Regions from separate parts of the Homo sapiens genome. Here regions 1 and 3 are each reported to be linked to region 2. The links are microRNA targets in miRTarBase. Many come from high-throughput screens and were not tested one by one. Region 2 holds a microRNA gene; each other region holds the end of a gene's coding sequence.
Evidence for each region. Region 2 holds the annotated microRNA hsa-miR-6508-5p (UCUAGAAAUGCAUGACCCACC, at 5,002-5,022, shown strand). A microRNA usually pairs through its seed, bases 2 to 8, with sites in the 3' UTR of a target mRNA and lowers its output. Matches are read on the target gene's strand: a 7mer-m8 pairs with bases 2 to 8, a 7mer-A1 pairs with bases 2 to 7 and ends in A, and an 8mer does both.

Region 1: miRTarBase lists PEAK1 as a target of hsa-miR-6508-5p. Seed matches in the 3' UTR shown: 7mer-A1 at 2,650-2,656, 7mer-m8 at 4,244-4,250, 7mer-m8 at 5,243-5,249, 7mer-A1 at 5,690-5,696 and 7mer-A1 at 5,780-5,786.
Region 3: the mRNA of TMEM97 is a reported target of hsa-miR-6508-5p. Seed matches in the 3' UTR shown: 8mer at 5,608-5,615.

What each region holds. Positions count from the first base shown.
Region 1 is chr15:77,108,465-77,115,657 of GRCh38, reverse strand. PEAK1 (pseudopodium enriched atypical kinase 1) reads left to right here. Exons shown (of 10, transcript NM_001385026.1): 10 at 339-7,193. The coding sequence ends at 1,502. Among named protein-coding and RNA genes, the nearest start is that of TSPAN3, 41 kb to the right of the region's middle. RefSeq lists a silencer at 1,221-1,409.
Region 2 is chr21:39,442,013-39,449,183 of GRCh38, forward strand. It overlaps MIR6508 (microRNA 6508), which reads left to right and starts at 4,998; the gene lies at 4,998-5,057. All of the region lies in intron 8 of GET1-SH3BGR (GET1-SH3BGR readthrough), which reads left to right. LCA5L (lebercilin LCA5 like) reads right to left here and starts at 3,766. Exons shown (of 11, transcript NM_152505.4): 1 at 3,713-3,766; 2 at 2,123-2,189. It also overlaps a transcript of SH3BGR not described here. RefSeq lists a silencer at 3,677-3,936.
Region 3 is chr17:28,326,263-28,333,455 of GRCh38, reverse strand. It overlaps TMEM97 (transmembrane protein 97), which reads right to left. Exons shown (of 3, transcript NM_014573.3): 3 at 4,771-6,922. The coding sequence ends at 6,663. IFT20 (intraflagellar transport 20) reads left to right here. Exons shown (of 5, transcript NM_001267776.2): 2 at 1,469-1,597; 3 at 2,928-3,013; 4 at 4,180-4,283; 5 at 4,723-5,130. The coding sequence starts at 1,471. The coding sequence ends at 4,804. Among named protein-coding and RNA genes, the nearest start is that of IFT20, 5.6 kb to the left of the region's middle. RefSeq lists an enhancer at 6,238-6,287.

The DNA of each region.
Region 1 (7,193 bases), not on the chromosome of region 2:
GGAAAGAGCAGGCTTTGGCATTAAACAAACTTAGGTTTGCACACATAACCCCGGGCTTTTTTTCTTTTTTAAATTCTTAGATCCTCAATCTACTGTGAAAGGTTAATGTGAGGACTAAAAATGGTACACTTAAAGTGCTCACCACAGCCTGGCATGTAGACAACCATGAGAAATGGTTACCACCATTATTATTGCCACTTAACATGGGGCAAGCCTTGCGAACAACTTTACTATATGATCGTTTGTCCCTAACCAGTCACCTTCCAGTTAATCTTCCCTGATACATCATAAACCTGGTTATGAGAGTGTGAGTTTTGAATTGTTTTATTATCTTTCAGATCTGTAAGAGCAAAGCTAAAGAATCTCAGCAGTATTATCACAGCTTGGCTGTCCGGCAGAGTCTGGCTGTCCATTTTAACATTCAGCAGGACTGTGGTCATTTCCTTGCTGAAGTCCCTAACCGTCTGCTTCCCTGGGAGGATCCAGATGACCCTGAAAAGGATGAGGATGACATGGAAGAGACTGAAGAAGACGCCAAAGGAGAAACGGATGGGAAAAACCCAAAGCCCTGTTCTGAAGCAGCATCATCCCAGAAAGAGAATCAGGGAGTCATGAGCAAGAAGCAGAGGAGCCACGTTGTGGTCATCACCAGGGAGGTTCCATGTCTTACTGTGGCTGATTTTGTGCGAGACTCTCTGGCCCAGCATGGGAAAAGCCCTGATTTGTATGAGAGGCAGGTGTGTCTGCTGCTCTTACAGCTATGCTCTGGTCTTGAGCACCTCAAACCCTACCATGTCACTCACTGCGATCTACGCCTAGAGAACCTGCTACTTGTCCACTACCAGCCTGGGGGGACTGCCCAAGGCTTTGGGCCTGCAGAGCCCAGCCCCACCTCATCTTATCCCACTAGGCTTATAGTGAGCAACTTCTCTCAGGCCAAGCAGAAGAGCCATCTGGTGGACCCCGAGATCCTCCGGGACCAGTCTCGCCTTGCCCCAGAGATCATAACAGCTACCCAGTATAAAAAGTGTGATGAGTTCCAGACAGGCATCCTCATCTATGAGATGCTGCACCTACCCAACCCCTTTGATGAGAACCCAGAGCTGAAGGAGAGGGAATACACACGAGCAGACCTGCCTCGCATCCCATTCCGCTCCCCCTACTCCCGGGGTCTGCAGCAGCTGGCCAGCTGCCTCCTGAATCCCAACCCTTCTGAGCGGATCCTCATTTCAGACGCCAAAGGCATCCTCCAGTGTCTGCTCTGGGGCCCCCGCGAAGATCTCTTCCAGACTTTCACCGCCTGCCCTAGCCTAGTACAGAGGAACACCCTGCTCCAAAACTGGCTAGACATCAAGCGAACACTGCTCATGATCAAGTTTGCTGAGAAGTCCCTGGACAGGGAAGGTGGAATCAGCCTTGAGGACTGGCTTTGTGCTCAGTATTTGGCTTTTGCCACTACAGACTCCCTCAGTTGTATTGTGAAAATTCTGCAGCACCGTTAATGTGTACCTGGATGATGCTTTTACTACATCTTCACCTTCTTCATGTCACCCATGCACTTCCCCTCCCTAGTGCTCACTCCAAATTCAAGGAAAGAAGAAAGGCAAACCTCTATCCCTGTCCGTGAACAAGTGGGTCTATTCAGAAAGGTTATCCACTGCCCCAGATTGAATGAGAAGCTGAGTCTGTCTTAACTTTACAGAAATTCAGCTGCACAAACTTGCAGTTGCCTTCCCTTGAAACACCTTCTATCCTAATAGTCCCATAAATGCAGGTAAAAATGAAAATCCATATTCTTGAAGGGACAGCTTCTTTGGTATGAACTCAGCCAGTGAGCTGTGTCCATTTCCTCCATAATTCTGGATATCACCTATCTTTTTAGCACCAAGTATTTATTCTCACTAGCAGTAGACAGACTTAACCAGTCTCTACCACGACCCAGTAGACTCTGACAACAGACTCTTCCTTTAAGGTGTCAACAACTGACTTACTAGGCAGGACTGCCATCCTTAGCATCAGCCCAGTTTTGGTTACCAGGGACTATATCTTTTGTTCCAGGAGAGAGTAGAAAGAAAAGGAGAGATCCCATCCTTGGGTCATAGACCCATTTTCATTGCCATTATCTGTAAGTATGTGCACTGCATGGAGGACAGCCCTAATAGTCTCCCCTCTGCTGCCACTGCCTGATTCTCCACTCTGTCCCCACTTGCCAGTGAAGTTTGGATTTATCAGCCACTTGTGGCCCATTACAGAGCTGACCCAAGGTGGTGTCACCAATGCCTCAGCAGGGTGGAGTGCAGTTCAGAGCTTATAAATAGCTGGCAGGGCATGAGGAGATGATTTTCTTGCATGTGCAATTCTCTAGGGGCCATCAGGAAACAGAGTTTAAAGTACCCTTTGATTACTGTCAGAACTGTCAGCATTTGCAGTTTTCCCCGAGCAGTAATTGGCCAGCTCCCTTCTATCAGTAGCCAGTGTTAACTAGTTTACCAAATGCTGTAAACAATTGCCCTGAATGAAATAGCTGTCAGTGGAGCTCTAAGATCTCCTTTAGAGGGCACAGTGAGGTGGGCTGTTGGGATGGCCGTAGGCAGGGGAGAGGAAGAAGGCCACTGATGAGACTGCTGACCTCCTCAGAAGGTTGACCTCTTCTAGAGAGACTGCCTCCCAGTGTTTAAGTGGCTCATTGCTCCTTCTGACTCTGTAAAATGGCTCTGGAGGACAGCTCACAGGAATTCTGATTGCTGAGGTGGGTGATTGAGAGCTGTTCACCATGTGTGCAGCCTGTGCTCCCCTTCTATGGATATGTGTGCAATTTTTGTATGTATTTTTTTAGCTGTATATTACAGTGTTTATGTTGCAACTTCACCTGAAGCGAGTCTACAGAAACCCTCCCCCTTCTTCCCTTGGCACATATTTGCGCTAAGAGATGAGCGTTCCTTCCACTGGGGTTGTGTGTGTGTGTGTGTGTGTGTGTGTGTGTGTGTGTGTGTGTGTATGTATACACATGTTCACCTGTGCTTGTTTTATTCAAAACTGTGAGTATGTGTTTACTTTGACCTTGAAATCCCAAGAGTCACTCGAACAATGTGTGTGTACACTTGTGTGCCCATGTGTGCGTGCACACGCATGCTGGAAGTAGAGGCCAGGCCTCTAGAAAAGCAACCTGTGGCAGGGTTGACAGACATGTTCTCTGTGCCTAGTGAGTGAGTGAGCCCTGAGGCCCCTCATCTACCAGTGCAGAGTTTCCTTAAAGCCAAGACTGACTGTGCAGTATTACTTACATAGCACATTAGTGGCCTTGGAAATTTCTAAACTTTTAACATTTTTAACAGCTTTTCATGTGATTCATGTATAACAAAGAGGATCAGGAAAGGAAAATAATGTATTTTATTGTGCTCTTATTACTTTTTTAAGTGATTGTAATATGTGAGGCTCTATTTGGAGAATGTCCCTTATCCCCTGGCCAGCAATATAGGACTCACAGGAAAGAAGGCTGGTTAGCCCACAAAGAGTCTTGCCTCCTCTAGCCAGAGTGCAGGGCTCTGCTCCTAGGAATGGCCATGGAGTGGGCATGCTGCTGCAGGCCAGCAGTCTGCTCTTGGTGTCCTGTGGCATGGCCGCGCCTTGCCTTGAAGGTTGGTGTTTGGTTCATCTTAGCATAGAACATGTGCACATAACTCCTTGCCTGATTATGCACTGAAGGGCAGCACACAGACCACTGACCATGTCAGCCAGCACATTCCCTTAACCTCCCCCACCTCCCATCTTGCAATGTCTTGCATATTGAGATATACCTTCTCAATGTCATGTTCGTGGTGCCTTGCCCATGTAAATTTCAATGTTGACTATTTAATGAGGTTACATATTTAATGCTGAATGTTTCCTGGTCCCTCTATTTGTTATGTCTCTACTTATCTTTTTTTTTCTTTCTCTTTTTCTGTTATGATTTGGATCCAGTCTTCACTTTAACTCTATGGTATAATAAGCATGGACACCTCCACTACCATTATCTTACAGCACTGGTAAACCAAGCACCTCTTCATATCAGATGTTTTTAGTACTGTTTTTATATTCAGATTTGTTAAGGGCAAAAGATGAATGCAAACTAGCCAGAGAAAAGCCTCAGGCTTCCCAGAGACAGGTGGCTAGATTAATTTTTCTCTGGGTGATGGCCAAAGAATGTGAGATAGAGAGGGAAGGGGGTGTTACAGGTTAGAGCAGAATAGAGAAAGAAACTATATTTCTAGGCAAAAAGTACTACATGAGTTGGTCTTCAGAATATTTTTCCAAAAAAATGAAATTCAGTCAGTTTAACATTATCACAAATATTTTTCATTTTAATTGTGGTAGGACCTTTGAATTTGTTCATCAACTGGAAAGAAATCCTACCCTCTGTAGACACATACACACACATTTATATATCTATGTGTTTGAATTGTGACTAGTATAGCACTTTACATTTTCTCAAGTAACAGGAAGTTATTGCCTTCAATATTGATTGGAAATTGTTTTCTATTGAAGTCTATACTGTAGAGTTTTCCATTTATATTGAGAGTTTGAACAATTAAGCTCCTATTGGAACTTTTCCTTAAGCCACATGAGCATGAACAATCTCTGTGACACTTGGGTGCTAGAGAAACACAACAGTGGCTAAAGTAGCCAAGAGCAAGACTGAATGTATAGCAGAGTGCCTTGTTAGAGTGGTAACCTAGTCTTGGAAGCAATTCAGTGGATGTTTCATAAAGAGGACTAGAACTTCAAGAAGCCTCCTGTGCTGGCTGAGGTGAGCCCTTTTGGTATATGTACACTACTGGGTTGCCTAGAAGCCAATTCATGAAGAATAACAGCAGGATGAGAAAAAGAGTCACTGTAACCTGTGGAACAACAACGTAAGAATCACCAACCCCTAGGCTGAGCTAGAACTGGAAGCCAGGAATATGGCAATGAGTTTCAAGATTTGCCCTCAGAAGATGAACTGGGTGAGGTATGGGTTGAGGTGAGGGCACAAGCACTCATCCTACCTACCCTGCTGCTGTTGAGGAGCTAGAAGTAAAACATATTGGTTAGGATTTTAACAGTTGGAGTAGCCTCCCATTATCAGATTAAGTGGGGGTCACTTTTGCTTCCAAACTCAGAATAAGTTTGTAAACATGGGAAAGTCTAAGCCAAGAGATCTAAAGCTCTAGAAATATTAATGACATTTCTGGGAGTAAAACTACTAAAAATTATATCTTAAAAGTTTCTAGTAGTATGAAGTTCCCAGGCCAGGCGCAGTGGCTCACGCCTGTAATCCCAACACTTTAGGAGGGCGAGGTGGGCAGATCACCTGAGGTCAGGAGTTTGAGACCAGCCTGGCCAACATGGTGAAACTCCATCTCTACTAAAAATACAAAAATTAGCCGGGCATGATGGCAGGCACCTGTAATCTAAGCTACTCGGGAGGCTGAGGCAAGAGAATCTCTTGAACCCAGGAGGCAAAGGTTGCAGTGAGCCAAGATCACGCCATCGCACTCCAGCCTGGGAGATTGAGCAACTTCGTCTCAAAAAAAAGTTTCCAGGAAAGATCTTTGGGTCCTACTAAGCGTCTCAATTTTGAGTTATGAATACTTTGGTTCAGGGAAGTAACCTGACATTTGGTTTTGCTGGAATTAGGGTTTTCGCTAGATTTGACTGCAATTAGGATTTCTTCTAGATTTTACCAGCAGTGATCTGAAAAAGTACAGGCTAGTCACAGAAATAGAGATGGATTTAGGATACTACACTATATTTCAAATGATTCTAGATGTGTAAATATAGTATGAACATTCTTGGAGAGGGGTGAGACAAACTGGACTTGCTGGGCCAACCCTGGCATGTTTTTCATTCTCCTCACTAGTTGACAAGGATTGAAAATTCCGCTCCAGCCTAATGAGTGAACAGGATGGCTGCCCACAAAACCAAGTTATTAGCTTTATGTCATCGAAGCTCATATTCTCAAAGGCCCAAAGTGCTGTGCCGAGACAAATCCAAGTGCTGCTCTTGCTGAAGTGCGCACTGAAGTCCAGCTGTCCGTGCTTACAGCAGTGCCAAAAGTGGGGATTCCATGGACCAAAAACGGTGCCATAAGGGAAGCCAGAAGAGTTGCAGTGCAAGATCCTGGGAGAGATTATACCAAAGAAATCAAGCCTTTTTATCCTGATGCTTCTAAGATGATGAGGGTGAGCTGTGACAGATGCTGTGGGAGGGGAGTTCACATACATTCCATGTCAAGGCATTTAGCTGATAAATCCATCCTCAGAAAAGCACCTTTTTAAAAAGAAGTCCATTTTGTATATTAGAAGATGATGATGATGATGAAGATGAAGAAAGCCCTGGCAGATACAAAGTTCCTCAGTATTTAAGGAGAAGGATCTCTTCCATGTCCCCTTGACATGACTGTGGCTATTGCCCAAACCTCAGCTTGAGAACATCATATAATACTGAGAGCGGAAGATTTTTTTAAAGAGATATGGTAGTTTAAATAGGTTTGTTTAAAGAACTCTTGGGAAATTTCTTAACAAATTGTAATTGTTTTTATAAACCTTCCTACAGAGTTGTGTACCATTCATCATCACCATCATTTAATATCTGTAAGTGCCCAGAAGGTACAAGGTGCTATACAGCCGTTAAACACCCCCTCCCTGCAACTGTTTAAAATTAGAATAGATTTTTGCATCAACCACTGCTAGAAGCTTTCCCCACCTAGGTGGGCTGCAAGGGCCTGCATTCCCAACATCCCATTACATGTTTCCCACTCCAGAAAGTCTCTGGGTTTATTCCAGCTTTTTATCTTGACGTGTCCCATTCACCCCCATGGTTTGGTTTGGTTTGGTTTTGTTTTTTAAATCAAGAAAGTTTCAGGGAATCAAAAGAGGTCGGACATTTTTTAACCTAGCAGAAGTACAGAGTCATATATTTTGCTACGAATATTGTTGTAGTACAGAAAACCCACTTTGCCCGTTAGTGTGTGGATAGTATGTGTGTGTCCGCACTCATGATAACTTGAATGTTGAACCAGACATAGGGTTCATTTTTGAAAGGTTAAACCACACTGTTTCAGGAACTTGCTCCAAATACTACTTGGTTATCCCTTCCTTTACCAGTTAGAACTAAAGAGTGTGATGTATGAACACACTGGGTTGGGATTTTCTGTTGAGGATATGCAGGGCATT
Region 2 (7,171 bases):
TTATGTCAGTAATGAACTAATCATAATAGTGACTGTCCAGAGTGTCTTCAAGGAAGGAGATACAACTCTGTGAAGATAAAGAAACCTGATCCTGACAGCGATCAGGGAAGTTATCCCTGTAGAAGTACTGTCTGAGTTGAGATAGGAAGGGTCAGTGGGAACTAATTAGGCAAGAGAGGATGAGAGGGAGGAGGGAAAAACAATGCAGACAGAGAGGAAAGAATGCCAAGGCCTGGTGGGTGGAGGAGGCCCATGTGGCTGAAGCCCAGTGAGAAGGGCCAGCGGTTTCAGATGAGTCTTGAGACGCAGGCGGGGGTGAACAGCTGCAGGGCCTTCGGAAGGCGTGTTTATGATGTGGATCATTAATCCAAGGGCAATGGGAAGCTAACTGTAGGCAAAAGAGGGAGGCGGGAGGGGTGGCATAATCAGCTCTGCCTTCTGAAGGTTACTCTGGCTGCAGGGTGAAGAATCGAGAAAAGCCAGAGGGAATGTGGGGAGACAAGCTGGTACAGGACTGCGGCAGGCTGAATGAAGGTGGTGGTTTGCACTTGGGTGTCCACGACAATGAAGAGATGTGAAAGATGCCCAGGAGACAACCTCACCTGGGCTTAAGGATTCACTGGGTGTTGGGGTGTGATAAGGGTCAAGGAGGAATCCTAGGTACAACGGAAGAGGTTCCAGCTGGGGTTGGGAAGTGGGGTTGTTTGGTTTTGTGCATGTTGAATTGGAGGAGACTGAGTGGTATTAAGAAACACTGTCACGCAGCTAGCTGAACGTACGAGTCTAGCTGAGAAAGGGTCAAGTTGGAGAAAGGTAGGAGTCAAGAGCACAGGGCTGGAACTTAAAAGCTGTGCGTGTGAATCTGTGCCTTGTGCTAGATGAAGGGGCGCAATGGAGAATAAAATGGGAACAGATGCCGAGCTTTGAGAATCTCCAATATTAAGGAGCCTGGGAGAGGAGGGTGAGCCAGAATGGCAGCAGGAAAAGCAGAAGAGTCAGGGATGGTCACAGAAGCCAAGGGAAGACAGTGTTTGTAGAGTGAAATGGGGGCAGCAGTTTCAGATGCCGCTGAGAGATTGAGCAAGACAAAGCCTGAAAAAGTCTCATTCCTGGTTTTTGTTTTAGCAGAGATGAAGAGGGAAGCCATACTGGCTGAGGAGTGAGAGACAAATAATAGAGGCATTGAATATGGCAGTTCTTTAAAGTTTGCCTGTCGAAAGGGATAAGGGATTGGACAATAACTGGAAACTGAAGGGGAACGTGGGGTCAAAGAAGATTCTTTTTTTCTCTTTTGTGATGGGAGACTTGAACATGCTTCAAAACCATGGCAAAGAGCCAGCTGAGATGGAACAGGTGATCATACAGGAGAGGGAATGTATACCTGACAGGGTAGAGTTTTTGGCGAGTGGAAAGCGATGGGATCCAAAGCACGGAGAGGGAGTGGCCTTGGTTAGGAGGAGGAAGGAAGGTAGGAACAGATATAAGTAAGGCTTGCAGTTTTGGGAGCTGAAGAATGAGGGGATTCCCATGTGACAGCTTCAAGCTTCTCTATGAAGTGACAGCACAAGGGCGTGGTGGGAGATCAAATCTGAGGAAAATGGTCATTTATGAAATGCAATCTCCTACAGACCCTCAGCTAACCGTGGCAATCCTACTCTGTTACTTTGGTTAATTGGGGTTTTACCTGATGGCAAAAGAGAAAAGATGGGGCTAGGAGTTTAAGAGAGTGGCAAGGGTAGGGCCGGGCGCAGTGGCTCACGCCTTTAATCCCAGCACTTTGGAAGGCCGAGGCAGGCAGATTACCTGAGGTCAGGAGTTTGAGACCAGCCTGGCCAACATGGTGAAACCCCATCTCTACTAAAAATACAAAAATTAGCTGGGCATGGTGGCGTACACCTGTAATCCCAGCTACTCAGGCCGAGGCAGGAGAATTGCTTGAGCCCAGAGATGGAGGTTGCAGTGAGCCGAGATCTTGCCACTGCACTCCAGCCTGGCCGACAGAGTAAGGCTCTGTCTTAAAAAAAAAAAAAACAACAAAAAAAGAGAGATTGGCTAGGGGCCTTAGCTCCTTGAGGGCAGGGACCTGTCACATTGATCGCGGTATCAGCACCCAGGTACTTACTATTCAAAATGATCAGCATACGGATGATCATTTGTCTGCATCTCAGTTTGCCTCTTTTGGTGCTTCTCTAAAAAATAAAAAAGGAAGAGCTTAAACTCCTACATGATTCCTGTCTTTGCGCTGGGAAGAAGGCTCTGGGTTCTTTTGTTCTTCAGGACAGTCCCTTGTAAAGCTCTTGCCATAGTTCTGTTCCAGGGGCACTGTCATATTTATACCTAACAAAGCTAAGGGGTGTCTTTACATTTTTAGCTTGTTAGCAGGATGCTTATATGGCCTTGCTGACCCGGTTTAAAAGTTGCAATTTGCAAAATACATACTGAAAATACTGCACTTTTACCTATGGAAGTTGTAATTTATATAAGGAAATTGTAATTTATATAATCCTTTAAAAAACTTACTCATACGAAATAACAGAGAACGGGGAAATACCATTAAGACTGTCATGCTCAAGTGGGGGAGGGGCAGACTCAGGGAAACCAATTAGGAAGCAAGTAAAATAATCCACGCACCAGATGATGGGGGCCTGGACCAAGGTGGTGACAGTGGCGGTTGAGAGAAATGGTAGAATTGTGAATCTATTCTGGGTGCATTTTGAAGGCAGTGCTGACAGACTGAAGGTGAGGAAGAGAAAAACAGGACTCAAACAGGATGCAAGACTCGGGCAACTGGAGGATGGAATTTCCAGCAACTATGATGGATTAAGATTGTGGGAGGACAGGCTTGGCTTGGGGAATTATTGAGCGCTATCTTGGACGAGCTGTGTTTGAGATGCCGTAGACATCCAAGTAGGGATGTGGCAGGCAGCTAAATGCAGGGATCTGGTGTTCAGGGGAGGGGCGAGGGCTGGGAATGCACACTTGGGGCTCACTGGAATTCAGATAGGCTCTGAGTACAGGCGACTGGATGAGTTCATCTAGGGATTGAGTGTAGACAGAAAAAAGGCTCAAGCTCACATTCAGCCGTGAAAACTGGTCTCTGAAAAAAGTTAACCGTTGGCTTAAGTGTGGCAACGAAACGTTAACACGCTGAGGGGAGGGTGTGGATAAAGAGCCCCGAGGCTGGGTGAGTGGGGGACAAACACAGACAGAGAAGACATTTCAAAAGATTTAGATTCCTACGAGATAGGGAGATGCCAGCGCTAAGGTTAGAAAGAAAAACTAATCCAAAGCAAAACAGCAAGTAAGCAGAGGCAAAATCGGAGGTCAGATAGAAGATTCAGATAGAAAAACCCCAAAGTTCCCTCGGTGGGGCGGCGGTGAGATCGGCCTCCGCCCCCTCGCCAGACCCAGGCGCGGCCCCGGGAGCGCTAGGTCACCTCGGCCCAGGCCGTCCCCCTGCCCAGCGGGCCTGAGAGTACGTGTGTCGCCGGGGCGCCCGGTCACTGCCGAGCCGGGGTAGCTGTTCCTTGGCAAACTGTGCCGCGAGGAGGAAACGGCGGGGCGCCAGCGAGGCAGGCAGGGGCGAGGACTGAGTGACCGGCGATACTGGAAGCCCAGAAAGAGCGTAGCAGGAGGGTCCGGAAGGGCCCAGAGCTGGGGCTGTAACAGGGTAACCGGCTGAGGGGGACGACGGCAGCAGCGGGGCCGTTACCTGCTCCGCGCTGTTCCCACGACTGCGCCAACGCCGCAGCGCCGGCGCGTCCCCATGGAAACCCGCGCGCGGGGCCTCCTGGGAAGCGCCGGCCTGCGGGGGCTGGGCGCGCGCATGCGCACTCGGGCAGCAGGAGCCGCGGCGGGGAGGGGCGTCTTGGGCCTGGAGGTCAGTGTGGCCTCGCGTTTGTCTTCGGTGACGGGAAGTGAGTTTCTTGTGTAGACGTCTGTAAACGATCCTCCTGCCGTCCCTGTTCGGCGCCCGGGACCCTGCCTTCCCGCGTGGCCGCACCGAGACGAGGGAGCCTGTCACGCGCTCTGGCGCTCTCCTGACCTCTTAAGGCTCTGTCAGTCTTAGGTAACTTGAGTCAGTAGGTGGGTGTAGACGCCTGGTCAATTCCTGGGAAGCACAGTTCCCCTATTAACCCCTTGTCATAAAGACGATTTTTTTTTTTTTTTTGTAAAACAAAATCTGATGACAAAACAATGCATGTTTGGCATAGAGAATTTAGAAATGTACAGGCAAGTCCAAAGCAAAAGTCAAAATCACCTAGATGATGGAGTTATAGATGTTTTTTAATGACAGCATAGGAATTTGGCATAATTTAGGAAGACTTACATTGTTTCCTTTTATTTATTTACTTTTTTTCCTGCATCAAAGCCATGTTGAATATCCTTGCAGATGAATCTTTGAGGTCACCCCTGACTGTTTCCTTAGGATAAATTCCTACAAGCGAGGTTGCAGGGCCAAAGCATATGCTCACTTTGAGGCTTTCTAAAGGTAGAGGGAAACTGCCTTCCAGTAAGTGTCCCGATACTTGGCCCGCATTGGAAATTCTCTTTTTTCTTAAAATTTTTTTGCCCATTTTATTGTCAAAAATTGGCATCTTTAATTGTATTCACTTCCTTTTTAGTAGGAAGAATAGACTTTTTCCCATATCTTGAGTGCCATTTGTCCTTATTGTGTGATTTGCATTTTCCTGTCTTTTGTCCATTTTAAAACTTGACATTCATCTTTGTAAAAATGGGTTTTGTAAGGACTTTTGATGCTTGAAAACTTGGCTTGTGATATACGTTGCAAATATTTCCTCAATTTGTCAGTTACCTTTAATTTTGTTTACAGTGTATTTTGGTATTTGTGTAGAGTCAAGCTTATTACATTTCTCTATAGTTTCTGCATTTGGTTTTTATATAAAAGGAGAAACGGGTGTTTTTTTTCAAATTGACTTTAATCCTACTTTGGTAGAAGTGGGTTAGGACAAGCTTTCTCTCCATATCACCATTTCTTCCTCTAGAAATGCATGACCCACCCTGAGTTTTGGTGGGCCATGCATTTCTAGAACTCCTTAGGTAGGGAATTATCCGTATAAGATGGGTGCCGGTTGTTTTTGCTGGTGGTGGTGGGCGGGGCAACATCTCCAGGTAGGCAAACATTAGACAAATGTCACTCTAGACTTGACATTATGGAAAGATGGGCTGATGCTTGGTGGGTGGTGGTGGCCCCATGACAGTAACGAGAGCGGAGTTTTGCCATTGCGGGAGCATCCAACCCTGGAGCTCATGACTGGAGGAATTGAAAGGTAGAGTTTCCTGAGAATGGTTTCCTCCTCTTTTCTACCAGCTTTTCCCAGTCTGTAGACATGATAAGTCACTGCAAATCTGCCCTTGAATCTTTCTTTGCTTTCGCTTTTGCTTTTTTTTTTTTTTTTTTTTGAGACGTATCACTCTATCGCTCAGGCTGGAATGCAGTGGCGCCATCCCAGCTCACCACAACCTCCGCTTCCTGGGTTCAGGTGATTCTCCTGCATCAGCCTCCTGAGTAGCTGGGATTACAGGTGTGAGTCACAACACCCGGCTAATTCTTTTTGTATTTTTAGTAGAGATGGGGTTTTGCGATGTTGGCTAGGCTGGCCTTGAACTCCTGACCTCAAGTGATCTGCCCGCCTCGGCCTCCCAAAATGTTGGGATTTCAGGCATAAGCCACCGTGCCTGGCCTTTGCTTTTGCTTTCGAAGGGGTGTTCTTTTCTGTGTACACAATGGAAGGAGAAGAGCCATGGCCTTTCACTATTCTGGGGCCATCTCCATCATGCCACATAAAAAGCATAGCCTTTATTTCTCTATATTAGGTTCCTAGGTTCCTAGGGATGTCATAACAGACTACCACGAACTTAGGGGCTTAGAACAATAGAACTTTATCTTCTCACATTTCTGGAGGTCAGAAGTATGAAACCAAGTTGTCTGAAAGTCCATGTTTCCTCTGAAGGCTCTTAGGGAGAATTTTTTGAGTCTTCCAGCTTATGGGGACTCCTGCTATTCCTTGGCTTGTGGCAGCACCACTCCAATTTCTGCTTCCATCTTCACAGGGTGTTCTTCTCTGTGTCTCCCTGTCTTGTCTTCTTATAAGGACAACCAGTCATTGGACTTAGGGCCCACCCTAAATCCAGGATGATTTAATCACAAGACCCCCTCAACTGATTACATCTGTAAAGACTCTATTTCCAAATAAGGTTACATGCTGAGGTTTGGCTGAACATGAATTTTGGTGAACAATATTCAACCCACTACAGTTATTATGGTAATCATTTCCATCATTCTACATAATAAAGACGTGTCTTTATTTGTCATTTTAAGTTATCTGTAAAGTTATGTAAATCAAAACATATCATCTGGTATCATTTATCATGAGATCATCTGGGGGTCTCTATGAAGTTTGTAGCCCAGTACCTCATGTCTTTAAATCAAAATTAATCAAATCAAAAAGTGATGTTATTTGACTTGTTAAAATATACTCCAACAGACGGACAAAATGAACTCCTGTTTCCTAAAATGAGATGCACCAAAAACAGAATGTCCTACTCGGGAGGCTGAGGCAGGAGATGAATGTGGGAGGTGGAGGTTGCAATGAGCTGAGATCAAGCCACTGCACTCCAGCCTGGTGACAGAAACAAACAAAAAACAAACAACAAAACAAAACAAAACCTCCAGAATGTCACAGCCAGAAGGATGAGGGGTTAGTTACGTATTTTTGCATTATTAACTGCTATTAAGTAAGCAGAAACCAGCTTCGAAAAAGCATAGCCAACACAACTTCAGCTGGAAAATTTCCAACTGACCCCGATAGACTGCCTGATGCCAGCCAATGGAAACATTCCCTCCCTCAGTATGCGCCCCCACCCCCAAACGCCTTGCAGACCTACTACAACTCCAGTTGGACAAAGGACTGGTCTTATAAACATTCTTTATTGATAAACAGCTGCAGACCTCCAGCCAATTTTGGCCAGCTTATAGAAATTGCACATAAAATGTCTTTGTGCCCTATAGTTCACCTGTTGATATAAAGAGCCAAATTCCATCCCATTTTAATGCTAGAACTCCACCCCAAGGTGAACATGGAATGTATGATACATATATGTTTACCCACTGCACACATGCCTGAATTTCCTCATAAATATTAGTAGA
Region 3 (7,193 bases), not on the chromosome of region 2:
GGATTACATACCAACATTGAGGTACTGGATTTCTGGTCATCTTAAAAACCAGAAGTTCTGGAAACAGTGAGACTTGATTATTTTCCAGCCATTGCTCCTCCTTGGCACACCTGCCCTGGACAGCCAACCCCAGAATCACCCCATTCAGAACAGGACTTCTCTAAGGAAGCCAGAAGGGAAACAGCTGAGGCTGGGGGCAGTGGGGGCAGAGGGAAGGGGCTGGTGCAAGTCCAGGTGATGGTAGACTTTGGAGCACCTGGGTTTTAGAATTGGCATAGCAGCCAATTGCTAGATGTAAGTAGCATTGCCTCCCTTTTTAAACAGGTCATAAAGATGTCTATGTTTAATTGTGTGTGTGTGTGTGTGTGTGTGTGTGTGTGTGTTTTGAGCCAGAACAAGAGTGAGTTTTCAGTATTTCCTTCCTAGAATTGAGGCATCCTTTGGAACAGGAATGCAAGGTGGCTTGGTAAGGGAGAAGATATCTCTGTTAGTTCTCTGTTGCCTACAGAAAAAATCCAAACTCCTTAGCTTGGCATGCAGGGTCTTCCTGGTCTGGCTCCAGCTCACCTTTCCAGCTCCATTCTTTTTCCTCTCGTCCTTAGGTGAGATAGGTCCTTTCAGTGACTTCAGGCCTTTGTCCATGCTGTTTTCTCTGCTTGGAATACCTATCCCTGTTCTCCTGCCTTGATATGTTCTTGCTGATACTTCATTCCTTTTTGTGTTTTCTGCTAGGAAGAGAATGACCCAACTTTGATTCCCAATTCAGGCAAGCATACGTTTTGAGTAATATTCTTACTCCTGACTTTTTATTTTTTAACCATAATTTTTAATTTACTCGGATTTCCTTTATTTGGTTTTTGTGTTGTTCCAGTATATGTATTTGAGAAGCCTTTTCATGTGCTTTTCAGTACATAACTGGTGATATATAAAGTAAATACACTGATGGCTTACAACTTAGTTCACATGTCACTCCTTCATTAATGGCTCTGTCCTCCTCTGGCTCTTTACTGATGTTTCTAAACAAGCATTTAACGCAGTGTGGTTTTTCAGTTTCCGTGTCTGTCTTCTTCCAGCTGAACTATGTGCTCTTCAGGGCGGGCACCGTGTTGCATTCATCTTTGTACCCCCAGCATCTAGCAGTGTTGGCATGTAGTAGGCACTCAAGAAATGTGTGTTGAATGAACGATGCCTGTGACAAGCAAGCGGACTTTATTCTTTCCTGACCCTTGCTCCTATGACACACCTCCTCCTGACTGCCACTGTCACTCCTTCAGAGCAGAACTCCTCTAGGGAACCTGGATGGGAAACAGGTGAGGCTCAGAGAGGTGGTGGCAGAGGGAACGGGGATCCTTTGGAACACCTGGGTTTTTGGCATTGGTGTCCAAGGGCAGGAGTGGGGCTGGCTTGGCAGCAGGCATTTCCTTGGGTGGCTGGGAAGTGATGAGGAATTGGGCCTGTTTCTTTACAGCCATGGCCAAGGACATCCTGGGTGAAGCAGGGCTACACTTTGATGAACTGAACAAGCTGAGGGTGTTGGACCCAGAGGTTACCCAGCAGACCATAGAGCTGAAGGAAGAGTGCAAAGACTTTGTGGACAGTGAGTATTGGGGAGATACAGTGCCACTCAGCTTTGAGCTGCCATTTCAACTGTACCCCAGGCTCATCTTGGCCCTGCCACAGTGGAGCTGCTGGCTCCCTGGAGGTTGAATCTGGCGTCTGTGAGTTCCCACGTGCCACCCTTTTCTGTCTGCCCTCTTGTGCTCTCATGTGTCCCCAACAGGGCACCAGTCAAACCAAACACCGGGATGGGGAGGGGAGGGTGTCTTTAGATATGCCATCTTTCATTTCTTGCTCTTAGAAACCTTAAACTTTCTGGGAACACAACCATGGCTTGGGTGTGGGAAATAGAATTATGTACTCATGATTTGATTTCTTCAGAGAAAGTCTTCTCAGGGGCAGGTTCTCTGTTATTTGGAGTTAGAAGTGATAGGTGAAGTTTCTAGAAGCAGCTCAACAGACTTACTGAAGTCATCTTTTGGCTGGAAATCTTCAGGAAGCCTCCTGTCCCAGCAGCCAAGCAAGCCCAATGCCCGTACAGAGCCAGATCTAGCTAGAACAAGGGACTTCTGAGCTTTCTGGGGGGTTTCCTAGGTTGTGGAGAGAGCTTGGTTAGTGAAAGGTAGCTTGGGTTCTGTCACTAACCTGTGATTGCTGTGCCATGCACACACCTCTCTGGGCCTTAGTTTCCCCTCAGTAAATTGTCACATCCAGGACATTGGAGAAAGTGAGTGGGAGATTAGGCACTTAATGCTGTGAGCTTGCTTTTTTGTGGTTACAAGTGGGAAGCCCCCATCCCCACTGTTAATTGAAATCTGGTGTCATACCTGTAGCTAGTCCAGAGGCAGCGCTTGTGTCCTGAGGCTGCCCTTTTGTGAACAACAGTGCTTCCTGTCACTCCTGGGGAAGCAGGGTTGGGGTCTGTCTGGAGAATGAGCCCAGCAAGGGCCTAGTGCTTTCATAGCCGGAGGTCATAGCGGCTGGCTGGCTCAGTGGGGATGCAAGGTCCGAGTATGCCCTGGTCCAGCTGGCCACCCTTCTCTAGGTTCAGACCAAGGGTAGGAGACAGGCCAACAGGCACCAAAGTGTTTAAGCGACAGGGTCTTGCTATGTTCCCCAGGCTGGAATGCAGTGGCAGTTCACAGGCATGATCACACATCCTCTAACTCCTGGGTTCAAGTGATCCTCCCACCTCAGCCCCCTGAGTAGCTGGGACTACAGTTGCTCTCCACCACGCCTGGCCCACACCGAACTATTTTAACACAAATTAGAAGGGGCAGTCCGCTCTGCCCTCTCACTGCCTTAGCACTCTACCGAAGGGGAGTGATGATACTAAGGAAATATTTTATTTTTTGTTCTTTTCCTAAAAGAAATTGGCCAGTTTCAGAAAATAGTTGGTGGTTTAATTGAGCTTGTTGATCAACTTGCAAAAGAAGCAGAAAATGAAAAGATGAAGGTAAGATCAGCATGTCTTCCGCCTACATCTTGGCCTGGGACCCTAGTTCACTACCCTCTCATCCCTCTTCCCTCTTGATTTATTTAGAGGGGTAGAGGGCTGGGTGGGTGAATTTTTATTTAAGATTTTAATAACTTCTGGTCCACTTAACCTACTGAACTTTTGCCAATCTTTATTTCCTTTAATCTTTATTTTTTTTTTTTTTTTGAGACAGAGTCTTGCTGTGTCACCCAGGCTGGAGTGCACTGGTGCAATCTCGGCTCACTGCAAGCTCTGCCTCTCAGATTCAAGCGATTCTCCCACCTCACCCTCCCGAGTAGGTGGGACTACAGGTGTGTGCCACCACACCCAGCTGAGGTTTTTGTATTTTTTTTTTTTTTTTTGAGACGGAGTTTTCTCTCGTTGCCCAGGCTGGAGTGCAATGGTGCGATCTTGGCTCACTGCAACCTCCGCCTCCTGGGTTCAAGCGATTCTCCTGCCTCAGCCTCCCGAGTAGCTGGGATTACAGGCATGTGCCACCATGCCTGGCTAATTTTGTATTTTTAGTAGAGACAGGGTTTCTCCATGTTGGTCAGGCTGGTCTCAAACTCCCAACCTTAGGTGATCCGCCCGCCTCAGCCTCCCAAAGTGCTGGGATTAAGGCGTGAGTGACTGCGCCCGGCCATTTTTTTGTATTTTTAGTAAAGATGGGGTTTCACCATGTTGGCCAGGCTGGTTGCAAACTCCTGGCCTCAAGTGAACTGCCTACCTTGGCCTCCCAAAGTGCTGGGATTGCAGGTGTGAGCCACCACACCTGGCCTCGTTTCATCTTCATATCAGCACTGATGTAGATGGTCTTATCCTCATTTTATAAATGAAGAAATGAAGGCTTACATAGTATGATTGGTGAAAGGCACAAGGCTGAATGGCACCACCAAATGTGCTATTGTGCCTGTGTCCCTGGCTCTAGGAATACTCCTAGACCTGCCTCAAAGCTGCCGTCTAGTTCTTGAGGCACTTTGTGATCAGTAGGTTAATCCTTCTGACTTAACCCAAAAGCTTTGGGGCTCCACTTTCTTTTCCTCTCTGAAGACTGACACAGCTCCCAGATAACCCCTCCCCACTTTGAGGACTTGATGCTGTAGATGGTTTTAATGAAGCCATGGCCTTCTCTGGCAATACTGTAGGCCATCGGTGCTCGGAACTTGCTCAAATCTATAGCAAAGCAGAGAGAAGCTCAACAGCAGCAACTTCAAGCCCTAATAGCAGAAAAGAAAATGCAGCTAGAAAGGTAAGAAGTCATGATGTAAAGCAAGTTCTTTACACAGCTGAATTTCCACTCTTCCTTCTGGAATGATCACTTCTTGTCCTTATTCTTCATCATTGTTTTCCCAGGAATAGCATCTCACTTGTCATCCTGATTTGAAGATTTTAAAAAATAAAATTACATTTGATGGGAAGGAAATAGAAAACTTGTTAATATCAAACCACCTCTAGTAGTTTGAGCATGAAAGGGTCCACGAAGTTGGCTGGCTCTCTGAAAGAAGACTTTCCTAGGGCTGGAGATTTCTCATGGGTGGCTCTGGGTAGGGCTTTGCCTCTTTCTTTCTTCATTCTGAACTCACACCATTTCTTGAAATCATTTAAACCTCTATATCCTTCTCTAGAAGAATTAGGTCTGTGGTTTACTTCATCTTTTTTTCAGGGCCTCTAACAATTTTGTTTTTCAGGTATCGGGTTGAATATGAAGCTTTGTGTAAAGTAGAAGCAGAACAAAATGAATTTATTGACCAATTTATTTTTCAGAAATGAACTGAAAATTTCGCTTTTATAGTAGGAAGGCAAAACAAAAAAAAGCCTCTCAAAACCAAAAAAACCTCTGTAGCATTCCAGCGGCTTGACCAATGACCTATGTCACAAGAGGTGGCGTGTAAGGAATGCAGCCCCCTGAAGACAGCACTACAAGTCTGGGGGAGCCAGTTTTAACATCAGTGCACAGCTGCTGCTGGTGGCCCTGCAGTGTACGTTCTCACCTCTTATGCTTAGTTGGAACTAAGCAGTTTGTAAACTTTCATCCTTTTTTTTGTAAATTCACAAAGCTTTGGAAGGAGAAGCAATAAATTTTTGTTTTCAAATGGCTTGATGTACCTTTTTTCCTGTTGCTCTTGAAATATGTTTAACTCCTCATGAGAGAACCCTGGATTCTCTATCCCCTAGTCCACAAAACAAACCAGGCAGTGGTCAGCAGCTACCTTTATTTGGATCACACACGTGAGTCAGACAGTACCACTAATCGGGCCAATATGGCTTGTGAGCAAAATGGGTGAAAATAGAGGGAACTGACTGGGACCTGTTGTCTAACATCATTTTAAGGTTGAACTTGAGCAAAGACTTAGAGAAAGCTGATGGAATGCCAAGCATCAACGTGAAGAGACCCTCTATGCACACAGTGGATATGTTATGCCTGGCTGTAGCCACCTTCTCTTCTGAAAACAAGATGGGAATGACGGAACTGTATTAAAAGATTAAGTTATCCACTAGGGAGCATACTAGCACACTTCCAGATCAGCCTTGAGATGCTAGACTTCAGATACAGGGACTTGTGTCAGGTGGCCTCTAGAAATGTGGAAGACTAAGATTTAGAAATAAACTAATTTAAAAGCAAACAAACAAAAAAAACTTTCGCCTAGGATGATCTGTTTACAACAGAAACAAAAACATTTTCCAGTTTAATCCATTTGACTGAAAGTCATTGTTGGGCTGACCCTTAAGGAAAACTTAAGTTTAAACTTCCTTTGCATAGTATGTTTTCTCTTTTTTCCTTGGGTTAGAGGTGGGAACAAGAAAACATTGATATAGTTTTGAATTAACATTAAAGAGGCAAAATTTCACATTTAAAATGGCCCAAAATATCCCACTATTCATTTTGCTGACAGGTGATACACTCTTGAGAATCAGGAGTGGAGGGTTTAGTCATAAGCATATATGCTGTGGGTCAGGTGACTCATGAACATGTCAAACAGGCCATGTTCTTTAGCAGTTTCTGGTCTGGTCCTGCTTTTAGTAATCTTGCGGTGGAACTCAGGCACACAGTTATTTGGTACCACTTCCTTATAACCTAGCCCACACCCCTTTGCCCACCCTCAAGCCGATCGGTCTGTTCATCCCAGTGCCCTTAGAAGGTGAAGGTTTGGGCTGGGCCCAGTGGTTCACGTCTGTAATCCCAGCACTTAGGGAGACTGAGGTGGGCAGATCACTTGAGCCTAGGCGTTCGAGACCAACCTGGGCAACATGGCAAAACCCTGTCTCCACACACACAAAAAAAACAAAACAAATTAGCCATACGTGTTGGTACACACCTGTAGTTCTAGCTACTTGGGAGGCTAAGGAAGATGGCTTGAGCCCAGGAGGCGGAGGTTGCAGTGAGCCGAGATCATGCCACTGCCCTTTACTCCAGCCTGGGCAACAGAGTGAGACTGTCTTAAAAAAAAAAAAAAAATGGAAGAAGGTGAGGGTTTGACATGGTTCCTGACACCATCTTGCTCTTGTGCATTGCTGCCAGTGTTTCAAATGCTGCTGAAGACGTGGGTTCTGAGCAGTGTTCCTTGTATTGTATCCAACAAGCAACCACCCTGTAGGCATCTCTACCCTGGGCCAGTGGTTGTTTCCTTCATTTTTTTTTTCTTTTCTCTTCATACTTGTAGTAGGGGCTCCGCAACATGAAAATTAAAAGTATGAATGGGATGAGTAAGTAGGGGGCATAGACAGACACAAGGGTTAACCGTTCATGCAAAGTCTCAGGTCTTTGTCCCTTGAAACCACTGGCTTTGGAGAAATCCTCAAACAGAAATGTGGAGAGTATCGGAATTAAGGTTGTCATGGTGTGAACAGAGTAGATGATTGCAGGAGTTCGAATCCACTTGCAGCTTCCTGAGGTAGTCAGGGGAAAAGAAAAATGGTTAGGTCTGTTCATGACTCAAAGGTGTCCATGACCTTCCCACTGTCTCTGCCTGCCTGCTTTCTTCTACTCCCTTCTCCAAGTGGAAACTCGGAACTGGAAACCTGGATGTGCCACACTGCCCAACATGCAGACTTACGTGACAGCTCACCGACAGCTCGCCAAAGAACCAAGAATGGGGGTCAGAACATAACTCGGAAAAGCTCTAGGGCAATAAAACTGCCATTACCGGTTAAACCTGTG